3 linked regions of the Homo sapiens genome follow. The protein of the gene in region 3 interacts with the protein of the main gene of each other region in a pairwise test. Each region holds a gene or a part of one and is shown on either strand. Other genes may lie near its edges.

Evidence for each region.
Region 1: the proteins of TTYH2 (region 3) and GRM1 come close enough for resonance energy transfer, tested with the Homo sapiens proteins (one large-scale study listed by BioGRID).
Region 2: the proteins of TTYH2 (region 3) and PDGFRA come close enough for resonance energy transfer, tested with the Homo sapiens proteins (one large-scale study listed by BioGRID).

The regions. Positions count from the first base shown.
Region 1 is NC_000006.12:146,396,033-146,399,679, reverse strand, and holds part of GRM1 (metabotropic glutamate receptor 1 isoform alpha precursor), read right to left. Parts: intron 912-3,647; coding exon 1-911. UniProt on the Homo sapiens protein: G-protein coupled receptor for glutamate. Ligand binding causes a conformation change that triggers signaling via guanine nucleotide-binding proteins (G proteins) and modulates the activity of down-stream effectors.
Region 2 is NC_000004.12:54,270,669-54,274,315, reverse strand, and holds part of PDGFRA (platelet-derived growth factor receptor alpha isoform 1 precursor), read right to left. Parts: coding exon 3,568-3,647; intron 1,923-3,567; coding exon 1,796-1,922; intron 780-1,795; coding exon 586-779; intron 1-585. UniProt on the Homo sapiens protein: Tyrosine-protein kinase that acts as a cell-surface receptor for PDGFA, PDGFB and PDGFC and plays an essential role in the regulation of embryonic development, cell proliferation, survival and chemotaxis.
Region 3 is NC_000017.11:74,212,198-74,216,500, reverse strand, and holds the start of TTYH2 (protein tweety homolog 2), read right to left. Parts: upstream 2,931-4,303; 5' UTR 2,914-2,930; coding exon 2,785-2,913; intron 872-2,784; exon of another isoform or gene 855-871; coding exon of another isoform or gene 789-854; intron 1-788. UniProt on the Homo sapiens protein: Calcium-independent, swelling-dependent volume-regulated anion channel (VRAC-swell) which plays a pivotal role in the process of regulatory volume decrease (RVD) in the brain through the efflux of anions like chloride and organic osmolytes like glutamate.

The sequences.
Region 1 (3,647 bases), on a different chromosome or scaffold from region 3:
CTTCTTTCTTCGGAAGATGTTGAGGAAAGTGTTGGAGCGGCAGGGCAGCTTGCCATCGCCAACATGCATGCGGACAACATCAGAGGTGGTGAAGGCACTGCGGACATTCCTCTCAGGCTTGGCAATAATGATGTACATCTTGGGAGTGAACATGCACCCCAGAGCCACTGTTACACTGAGACTCACTGCAAAGCAAGTTGTGATGATCTTGTAGTTGCTCCCAAAGTAAATGGGCACAAAAGCTAGCCAGATGATACAGGTGGTGTACATGGTGAACGCGATATATTTGGCCTCGTTGAAGTTGGCGGGCACGTTGCGGGTCTTGAAGGCATAGTAGGTACAGCTCATGATGAGGAGTCCATTGTAGCCCAAAGGGGCCACCACACCCAGGTTGCTGGTATTGCAGATAAGGTAGACTTCCTTGATACTTGGGTAGGACAGAATGGGCATAGGGGGTTCCATGATGATCAGGGTTACCACCAGGGTTAGTTGCACACTAATCAGAATTGAGGCAATGATCACCTGAGCCCAGGCACTCATGAACCTGGGCTTCCGGGTGCAGATCTTCTTCTTGCTGCCAGCCAGGATGCGTGCAATACGATTGGTTTTAGTCACTAAAGCAGAGTAGCACATCGCAGAGGAGAGGCCAACCAAGAGGCGCTGGAGGTAGCAGGAGGTGGTAGTAGGTTTGGCAATGAGAGTGAATGGGCACACATAACCAAGGAAGATGCCAGCTAGGATGATGTAGCAGAGCTCCCGACTGGAGGATTTGACCACTGGTGTGTCCCGGTACAGTACAAAGATTAGGGTGACAAACAAGGTAACAAGGATTCCCAGGCATGAAAAGGCGATGGCTATAATGGATTCGATGTTGCTCCACTCAAGATAGCGCACAGGAATGGGCTCACAGCCTGTGATGAGAAAAATCATTTGAGCATGAATCCAAGGTTTCTGCTAGGAATAACAACTTGCCTATTAATTACCAGAGACACAGTCATCTTTGCATCCTTCATGATTTACAGCATTTAATGCTTTTTTAAAAATGCACACTATTACACAAATAAAGATACATCATTGTCTTACCTGGACAATTATGTCCCCAAACTTAATCTTATTACAAGCCTAATGTGACATACTTGAACCTATAAAAATGATCTTTTCTTCCAACATCAGCATTATAAATAGATGTCATTCTGTGAATGGGACTCGGTTCTACATGTTCAGAAAAAGAAAACACCCAAATAAAACTTTATTTCCAGTGAGGGTTAAATGGTGATAATGGGATAGAATAAATTATTAAGAAATAAACTAACAAAACTTTTCTTTTGATGCAGCCATTGTCTGTAGGCAAGTCCAGCTCATAGACAAGTCGTTTTTGGCCAGCAGAGTGTTTTCAATGTAAATTTCATGGACTTCTTTAGAAGAATCTGCATTCTCCTGTTTCCTGCATAACTCTATATTATACCTTAAATCTCACTCTTCTCATGAATCATGAATGATCTGTATCTGAAACCTGAGGGCCTTTGAGTTAGTAACCTCTAGTGGACATATCCAGGAAGAATGAAATCTCCCCTAACCCATCTCTTGAAAGGAAAGACTAGAATTTGTTCCTAAATTCCTGGCTTATCTTTTCCTTCTAGATGGAGAATAAAATGTATTTTGTATTTCAGAGTGAGAGAAAAATTTGTCAGGCTCTGGGACAACCCCTTCACAGAATTTTGTAATCACAAAATATTTGGTCTGGGCCAATATTTCCCAAATTGTGAGAATAAAGTCATTTCCATAAATTTAGGAAAAGACTCATTGTTCTGTAGCCATGGCAACAAGGAACCACCAGAACCAGTGCTAAACCTGTCAGTCAATCAACAACTTGCCTCAGTGAACATGTGTTTGGATGCCAAGCAAGCACTGTCAGCCCTTACTTCTGATAATCACTCAGGCAGGATCAGAATCACTTCAATAAATGAGTGCCAACTAATCAACAGTCTCATGTGAGTAATCGTATTGCTACAGGTGATGTCAACCAGCTCTCAGAAGCTGCAAGGTTTTCAATCCCTAAACTCCACACTTTCTAAAAACTCCATATAAAATGAATAGTCTTCTGCTCAGAGAAAATGTATCTGCCTAGCATAACTATCCCTTACTATAGTAAGCAATTTGTTTAGCTTTTGTGCTTTTTTTTTTTTTTTTTTTTTCTTTTTTTTTTGAGACGGGGTCTCACTCTGTTGCCCAGGCTGGAGTGCAGTGGCGCAATCTCAGCTCACTGCAAGCTCCGCCTCCTGGATTCACGCCATTCTCCTGCCTCAGTCTCCCGAGTAGCTGGGGCTACAGGCACCCGCCACCATGCCCGGCTAATTTTTTGTATTTTTACTAGAGACGGGGTTTCACTGTGTTAGCCAGGATGTTCTCGATCTCCTGATCAGCCTGCCTCGGCCTCCCAAAGTGCTGGGACTACAGGCATGAGCCACCACACCCAGCCAGCTTTTGTGCTTTTTAAAAAAAATTTTATGTATTTAGTCTCACCATGTTTCATATTTCTAGAGGCTTCACCAAGATAATTTTGAAGACTCCTTATTTGATAACATTCCAGGAGATGCTCTGATCAACAGGGTCACTCACTGGACCCCCTCGTGCCCGCATTCTGTCCTTCCCATGTACTAGCATGAGAGTCATTCTCAATAATTTTCTCACTCTGGCTAATTTTACTGAGCTCTTGTTGCTGAATTTATGTAGTTGTCCTAGGATTTGTAATCATGTAGGTCTTTATATAGAAGGCACTTAAACTTAGGTCTTTGTGTAAGGTTATTTCACCTGTATCTTTATATATTAAGTCATATAACCTTTGGTTTTGAAATGCACCATTTGGTAATTAGACATAAGCTTTTTATTATGTCAATAAATAGTTCACTTTAGAGATACACAATTTGATAAATATTTTTTTCCATATCTGTTTATTCCCTTGCTGTTTCTTTGCTTTTGCTGTTATTTACATACATACACAAAGTCTTATTTTATGGGTCTTTTTTGTTTGTGTGTTTGTTTCGTTTTGAACCATATTTTTCTGTTTTGTTTGTGTGTTTGTTTTGTTTTGAATCACCTTTTTCTGTTGACAATATAAGGGATAGTTCATAAACATTAGAGGAACATGTAAGCCTAAGAAGTGTCCAATCCAAGCTGGCCCTGAGTGCTAATGTTTGGAGCTCCTTTAAATTGATAACCAATTTGCCAAAAGTGGTAGGTCACTCAGCCTTAGGTTTCTTAGAAAACCTTTACAAGAATACTTCCCGTGTTGTCAACTTATGAAAGATCACTTTATTTTAGTGATTGTGTGTTGCCTTCCTACACTCCGTTTGCTTTGGGAATCTAAGACACCATTGGCAAGCACACACTTTTGACAGAACTTAGTGGCCTCTCTTCCTTGTGTATCAGAGATTTGTCTCTGTCTAAATACAAACCTTTTTCTGGAAGAACTTATTCTTCCTATATAAAGTCACATACTAATCCTAATTTTATTTTTGTTTTCCCAATGCAGGCAAGACAGATGATACATAGATGATAAATATATATATATAGACGATAGATAGATAGATAGATAGATAGATAGATAGATGATGGATAGGTAGGAAAATAGATATTTAAAATAACAT
Region 2 (3,647 bases), on a different chromosome or scaffold from region 3:
AAAATTCAATCAGGAGAACTCAGTATTTTCTCCAAAGTTGCTCCAACAGTAACCTTGTGGACAGAATTTGAATAGGATAAATGCAATTGACAGCTACTATATGGGCAGACACCTCTACTTCATATGCTTTATTATAAAGCTTATTTTGTAAGTTGCATTTTGCTTATATTGCTTTTGGCTTCATCTATCTTTTAAGGAGCAATGAGACAGAAGATCCTTCCCCACACTCCATCCACATACACAGACATTCAAAGTAGAGACTGTAGCTATATTATTAGACAAGCAAAATGTTGAGGGGCCTCTGCAAAAATGCAGTTTTGGATCTGAATCTAAAACAACGTCCTAGGTAGAGGTTGCAGTGAGCCAATATTGTGCCATTGCACTCCAGCCTGGGCCACAGAGCAAAACTCTGTCTCAAAAAACAAAACAAAATAAAACAAAGTCCCACATGACTTTAAGAGCATTCATAACTGAATTTCTGCCTTGGGACCTTCATTTCTATATAACCCCTATCTGGGATTCAAAGTTCCGCCTGGGGCAGATGCGGCTCAGCTGATGAGTTGTCCTGACTGTTGAGGAACTCACTGGGAGCCACCAGCTTCAGCTCTCGGTTCTCAGCTCCAAGGAGATTCTTAGCCAGGCATCGCACGGCGATGGTCTCCTCCACTTTGGCGAAAGTCACACGGCCCTCCACGGTACTCCTGTCTCGGGAGTGGATCTCCGTGATGATGTTTGAGACATTGTTGGCCAAAATAGTCCAGGAAGTTTCATTATTACATCTAGAGAGAAAAAGGGCCTAAGTATAGGGCCAATTCCTGAGAGTCATGGCAATGAGTGGAGCCACGGGAACACTCTAAGATGGCAAGGAGTTGGGACCTTGTCTGCATTTCGGGGCAATACACACTGATTTATTTTACATGCAGATGAACATTAAAACTTGTCTGCATGTGCTGAAGAGGGAATAACTCACACATGAACAACTGAAAGCTAAGTGTTTACATAGCAGGCAGAGATAATCAAGTTTAATAAAATATGACTACCATTCCCCAATCTTGAACCTATGAGCAAACTGAACAGTTCAACTTCAACCATATTTAATGATCTCAATCTCCCACCCCTTCAAAAAGGCCTGGAGCCCTCCCTTCTCAACACTCACACTGGGAAGAGCCCCTAGGGTGTCACTAGGGTTGCGATGATCCTCAGATTGAGTTATAAGACCTAGAATCCTGCTCCACACTGGAATCTACTAGAAACCCCAGTCAACATCCAAGTCTGTTCTTAGCCCTAGAAGTTAAGATGAGGAGTCTCTGTCTAGAGGAAGAAACAACTGAGGCTTCTGAACACAACCAGTTACCATGGATGAAGTGTAAACACATTGCTCATGTGCCCATTTAAGAAGGCTGAGGACTCGGGGGAGGGAGGAGGGAATGGCGAATTAACCCACCAAACAGCAGGTGGGCAGATAAGGGACTAAGCAGTCACATTTATGTTTACATGCAGTCCGACTACCAAACAAAGTTCACCAAATAAGATATGTGAGCCAGGGTAGTAAAAATCTTCTTAGAACAGTGGTTCTTAAAATTCACTCTTGTTTTTAGATTGGAGACATTTTGAAGGTCTAATGAGAGCCCTGGACCTTCTTCTCACAGCTATTCATGACAAAAGATACACACCCTGAAGCTATCACACCCAAAACCCTATCTTATAGTCAATAAGTAAAATGTATTTGACATCATTTGTGTCAAGGGAGAAATATTCTGACCACGAAAGAAGAAGACACATCTGTTTTCCATACTTCTTAATATCTTTGCATATCATCCACTCAATATCAGGAAGCGGCGTGCCTTCAGCTGTGCACCTCACCGTCTGTCCCCCAGTTGAGCCATGGTGATCATCGACCAAGTCCAGAATGGATGAAGGAACTGCAAGAGGCAGAAAGAAGTCAGAATGGAATAGCTCGTGTCCCAGAACATATGAGACTACAAAGTGGAATATGAGTTCACAACTCATCTACATGGCATTCAAAACACTCCGGAGGGGCTGAAACCAGTTGTACAAGTAACACTCCAGTTTAGACAGACCCACATGGTTAGCAGCATTTTCACAGTTTTGGTGTTTTGAGATTTATCCCTGTGATGTTTTTAACCTGGAGTGAAGAAAGTGAAAAGTCCATGGTTGTGATGCCTCACACATGTAGCCCCAGCTACTTGGGAGGCTGAGGTGGAAGAGAAACACTTGAGCCCAGGAGTTTGAGGCAAGCCTGGGCAACATGGTGAGAAGAAAAATGGGAAGGGAAGGGAAGGGGAGGGGAGGGGGGGAGGGGGGAGGGGAGGGGGAGGGGAGGGGGGAGGGGAGGGGAGAATGAAGGAAGGAAGGAAGGAGAGAAAGGAAAAGAGAGAGTGAGGGAAGAGGGAAGGAAGGAAGAAAGGAAAGAAGGAAGGAAGGAAAAGGGAGAACAAGGGAGGGAGGGAGGGAGGAAAAGGAAGGAAGGAAGGAGAGAAAGGCAAAGAAAAGAGAGAGTGAGGGAGGGAGGAAGGAAGGAAGGAAGGAGAGAAAGGAAAAGAAAAGAGTGAGTGAGGAAGGAAGGAAGGAAAGAAAAAGAGAAAGGAAAGGAAAAGAGAGAACAAAGGAGGGAGGGAAGAAGGAAGCAAGGAAGGAAGGAAGGAGAGAAAGGAAAAAGGGAAGAGGGAAGGAAGGAGAGAAAGGAAAGGAAAAGAGATAACAAGGGAGGGAGAGAAGAAGGAAGGAAGGAAGGAAGGGAGGGAGGGAAAGAGAGAGAGAAAGTCCCTTGGTTATTTGGCTTGAAAGGCAAGGAGGTTCTTAAAATTATATTATAGCTTAGGATTCAACTAATGGATTCAGCTAAAGTATAATCTAAAGCAGCATTTACCAAAATGCATCTGTGGTATGTTATTAGGTTTTAAAGATTCTTTTCTAAATCTGTGGTCAAATAAATTAGATATACGGTGTTGCTTGTATCACAGGTTTTACTGTGAGGATCACATGAGCGCACCTCAGACAGCACCTGGCTCATGGCTGGGACTCTGGATAGGTGCTGAGCCTGAATGTAAACAGACTTGGGCACTCCCTTCTGGTAAGGACCACTGTACAATGTCTATAAGGAAAACTTGTAGCAAAACTCTCCAGAACAATCTAAGGTCATCTGCTTCTCTCTTCTCAGATTGAGAAGCAGGTGCTAAGTAAGCTGGTGGAGGCCAGGTGCAGTGGCTCACACCTGTAATCCCAGTACTTTGAGAGGCCAAGGTGGGAAGATAGCTTGAACCCAGGAGACCAGCCTGAGCAACATGGCAAGACTCCATCTCTACAAAAATAAAGCTAGCTGGTGGAGCCTAGGGATTCCTCGCCTACTCTAGAGTAACCCAGAACCTCCCAGAAATACCTGAATTCATGAGTCCAGCAGAGGTATTCCCGATATGTGACATATGCAGACACTGCTTCTCCCCTAAGTGCTGCTTTTCTTCCATGACCGGGGAGAAAAGTGCCAGGCTTTCCTTGGAAGACACTCATCTACAGAGCTAGCATTATCTTTATACTCCCTTTACATACCTTGAGTTAACAGTTCAAAAGTATAGCTCTTCACAGCATCTTCATTTTGAGCTACAATAGTATAATGGCCACTGTCTTCT
Region 3 (4,303 bases):
GAACACTGAACTTGCTCAGGAAATCCCAGCTCACCAGGTGACCTGCTCTTCACCATCTCTGCACTTCCAAGAACCCCCTTGCCTTTGAGATCCCCCGCACCACCCACATCCTAAGGCCAGCACCTGCCTGTTTCCATCCTTGCTTAGTCTCTGATGCACACGCACCCACCCCCCACACCCCACACAGCCAGCACTGTGCATTTGAACATGTGGGGCATGAGCTGAAGCCCTTTCTGCAGGCGTTTTGTTCAGTCTCCCCCAATCAGAGTCTGTGGAAGAGATCTCCTTCCTCTCCATTCCCCAGCAGGGTACTGTCCTGAGACACACTCCTGAACCTCTCAGCCACTCCATTGAATGATCTGTGTCACTGGCTCCTGTTATGTGCTATGGGACTCTCTGTACTAGGCATGATATGTGGAATATCTCATCTAATTCTTGCAGATGAAGGGAACAAGGCTCAGAGAGGTTAAGACACCTACCCGTGGTCACACATGGAAAGAACTGGGAATCCACCCCAGCCAACTGGAGGGCAGAGCCCCACCTCAAACTGCTTGGTGTCTGCCATAGCACTGCGCCCAGAGCCCAGCCGCAGAAAATCCCCAGCAATTTCTCCTGAAGACCTGCTGCCTTGGTTACCACGGTCACCCCACGCCTGGCATAGCACTTGCTCCAGTCAAGCTTGCTGAAGACTGGGATGACCGACGGTCCACCTGACTCTGTTAGTGACTGGTGCTCAGGAGGAAAGAAGACATCCAGGAGAGACCTGTGGTCACAACAGGGGAACTTACCAAAAACAGGAGCCACCTTAAATAACACCCAGAGCCAGACTTCCGGTCCTGGCCCACCACGCTCATCTCCTACTCAGCGATCTGAGTGGTGGTGAGGGGGTGAGCGGGACCAGGAGCCAGTGGGCAGGGCTGGTGTCAGCTGCCCAGGAGCAGTGGCCGATGGGAAGGGACACCCTCTGGAACCATTTGATGCCCAGCACAAAGTGAGCCGGGGCCAGAATCCTGGGAGGAGGGGCAGAGGCTGGAGGTAGGTTCATCTGGCTCAACTGCCACCTGCCCATGGGACTGAGGGGGCTGTGGGCAGGCCCAGGATCCACCAGCCACAGCTGTTGGGCTGATAGGAACTGTCTCTGGGGCCATCAGGGTGAGGGAGTCCCCTTACCATCCCTACCCCCACCTAGGGGTCTTCTTGACCCAATGAAAAGTTTAGATTTCCTCCAGTGGAGAGGAGAAAACTATGGCTGGAGACCCCGGGTGTGGGATGTGGGGCACAGGGTTTGGGATGGGGACACACACACACACACACACACACACACACACACGGCTGTTTCTGAAATCATATCCGCCTCTTTTCATGCATTCTCTGGGAGAGGAAGATTCCCTGGAGCTATCCCCAGGCAGCCACATTCTCAGGGAACACAGACTCCCACAGGCTGGGCTCTGGGGGAGGGGGGTGGGTCCACCGACTGCCGTCTTGCTCCTGAGTGCCCACTGAACCCCAGGAAGGGGTCCTGATGCTCCCCTCCCTCTGGTAGGGCAGGCACCATCTGCCTGGGCCTGATGGCAGCCGGGTCGTCAGGGGTTATTATTAGACTCCCTGTCACTGGCGCTTGGGCACCTCACACTGGATCAGGATTCCCTCCAAGAGGCCCTGCTTTGCCCTGATCTGTCCCATATCTGGAGAACTTGACACAGGGAGAGGCCGCCGGGGGCCAAAGTCCTGAGATGGGCGCCTGGCTCTGAATAAATGGACCTCATCCTGGTCCACTGGCCCCAGAATCTTTGACCCAACACAAGGAACTGATACAGGTGGGCTCCCGGGGCCAGAGCAGGCGTGACCAGACCTGAGACGGGCTGGGAGATTCTGCAGCTTTGTTTGTCTGGGCAGGGAGGTCTGGGGAGCCCTGGCCCTGTTTGTGGGGTGCAGAATCCTGCCAAGGGTCAGCAGAGTAGGGAAAGGGCGGGGAAGCCGGGAGTGACTGCCCTAGGCCAGAAATTCAGGGCTTAAAGGTGTGAGGTAGAGAGAGGGGCGTGGGGGAACAGGAATGGGCCAGTCTAGGACCAGGGGACACAGAGAAGCTGACTGTCAATGCAAGGGGGTCCTCAGGACAACAGTGTGAGATGGGCTGACGGAGGCCACCTTCCTTCCCTGGAACAAGCGCAAGCAGCTGTGGGTTCTCTGCGCTAGAGGGGAAGTGACCCACACCGCTTCCCCAAGCCCTGCAGCCTTCCAGCTGAGACTCCCACCCTGCAGGCCGGGGCTGGGGAGGAGGGGTGCTGCGAAGACCGACTCGGGAGACTCTACTCAGTTTCTGCCAAACTTTCCTAGGCCACTCAGCCCCGGAAAGAGAGCGCCCCATCTTGGAATCTCAGACGGTCGAAAACTTCGGGGCACCCCTCAGCATCCCCGCACCTCGCGCGCCAGGATTACCCCGAGACGAATGCCCCTGTCCTTACCCCTCCCCCGCGCCGCCCTGCCCGCTCAGCGTTCAGCCCCTCACCCCGCAGGCGGTCTTGCGCCCTTCCTCCCCTTCCCCACGCTCGCTTCACTCTGATCTCTTCAGTTTTCCCGGCCCCCAGGTTCCCAGACAGGAGGGGACGCGGGCCACGGGCCTGGGAGGGTGGGGGAAAAGGGGAGAGGGGAGACGGGAAAGGGCTGCGCGGGGAGAGAAGGGGTCTGAGAGGCACGTGGGAAAGTGCAGGCTCTCGAGGGGAGAGGGGGTAGTGCGGGGACTTGGGGCGCGCGTGGCTGCGGTCTGGGGCGGCGTAAACTTACCTCCTGGTAACTCTCGTCGCCGGGGCTGAAGGTGCTGTTCACGGGCTGCAGGCGCAGGCCGACGTGCGGGACGCTGTGCAGCCACACGACCCACCAGGGAGCGATGTAGTCCACGCGCGCCGCCTGCATGGCTCGGCCCGAGTGCTACCCACAAGCTGAACGACAGCTGCGCTCACCTCCCGGCCGGGGCCCCGTGCCCGCCCCGCCCCCGGCCCCGCCTCTCCCTGGGCCCGCGCCCGCCCCGCCCCGCCGCGATCCCAGTCCCAGTTCTGGGCGCGCAGCCCGCTGCAGTCAACAGCCCCTTTCTGGGCGGGGATCTGTCCTGGCCGGATGGGAGGAGGGAAGTGAAAAAAGCTCCCAGAAGTCTCTAAATCAGTTTCAGTCTCGAGGTCCCCGGGCTGCTTCTTATTTATGATCAGATCAAGGGTATAAGGTGTCAGTGGGGGCAGCCAGCAGTCATAGGCCAGAGAGGGGCGACTGCCCGTCCCAAGGGCTTGTCACAGGGTAAGTAACCGACAGACTGGGAAAGGAAGGAGGCAATCTTCAGCCACTCGGTCACTCATTCTAAATTCACTCTCATTTTTTGGGCATCTATTGTGCAAGCCCTGTGGACTTAAAAAGAGAAATAAGACGCCGTCCCTGCCCTCGGGAGCTCCCGGCGCATCTGCCCCAACAACTCGCTGAAGCCGCCTGCAGGACGCCTGAGTGAGGACAAGGTGTCTCACTCAGAAAATTTGCTTGATTCTTCCTGGCAAGTGGGACAGGGTGAGCTTCCCGGAGGAGGGGACCTTCGAGCTGTGTAGCGGGGAAGGTAGGAGAGCGATGAGAGCGCCCGGAAGGGACAAGCATTCGGGGAGACTGAAGCGCATTCAACAACATATTTATTGAGCACCTACTACGTCCAGGCACTGTTACATCGGTGATGTAACAAAAGCCGACAAAAACCCTCACCCCGAGCGCAGGCACCGCAGAGGGCGATGACGACCCGAGAAGATGCCGAACGCAGGCCAGGAGGGGGCTCTGGGGAAAAGCAAAGGCAGGGGAGGTTGCCCATCGGGGAGCCTCGCGTCCCTGGGCCCTCCGTACTCTGCACATATGCAGAGGCCCCCACCCGTCCTGTAACCGCAAACTGCTTGGCGTGACTTGGCCAGCGGAGGGAGGAGCCCAGGCTGCAGGACAAGCAGGAGTCAGGGGTAGGTGCGGTGGAGTGATGGGGTCGCGGCAGATTGGGCGTGGAAACCGCGCTGGGCAGCCAGCCTGAGGGGTGCGTATCCACCGCGGCAGGGACGCGGGTGAGAAAGGAGCCCCGGGAGGACGGGGCGGGGCTCCTAGGGTTCTGGCTGAAGGGACCGGGTGGATGCGGACCGACTGAAAACGCTCGCAAACACATATGGCTGCTGGGGAGTGGGGCCCCAGTCACCCGGTGCTCAAAGGCCCTGTGTCCATTAGAGGAAGTCCTGGCCTCGGGGCCTCTCCTCGTGGCCGTGATCCCACGGTTCTGGGGCCCTGCAGGAGCCCA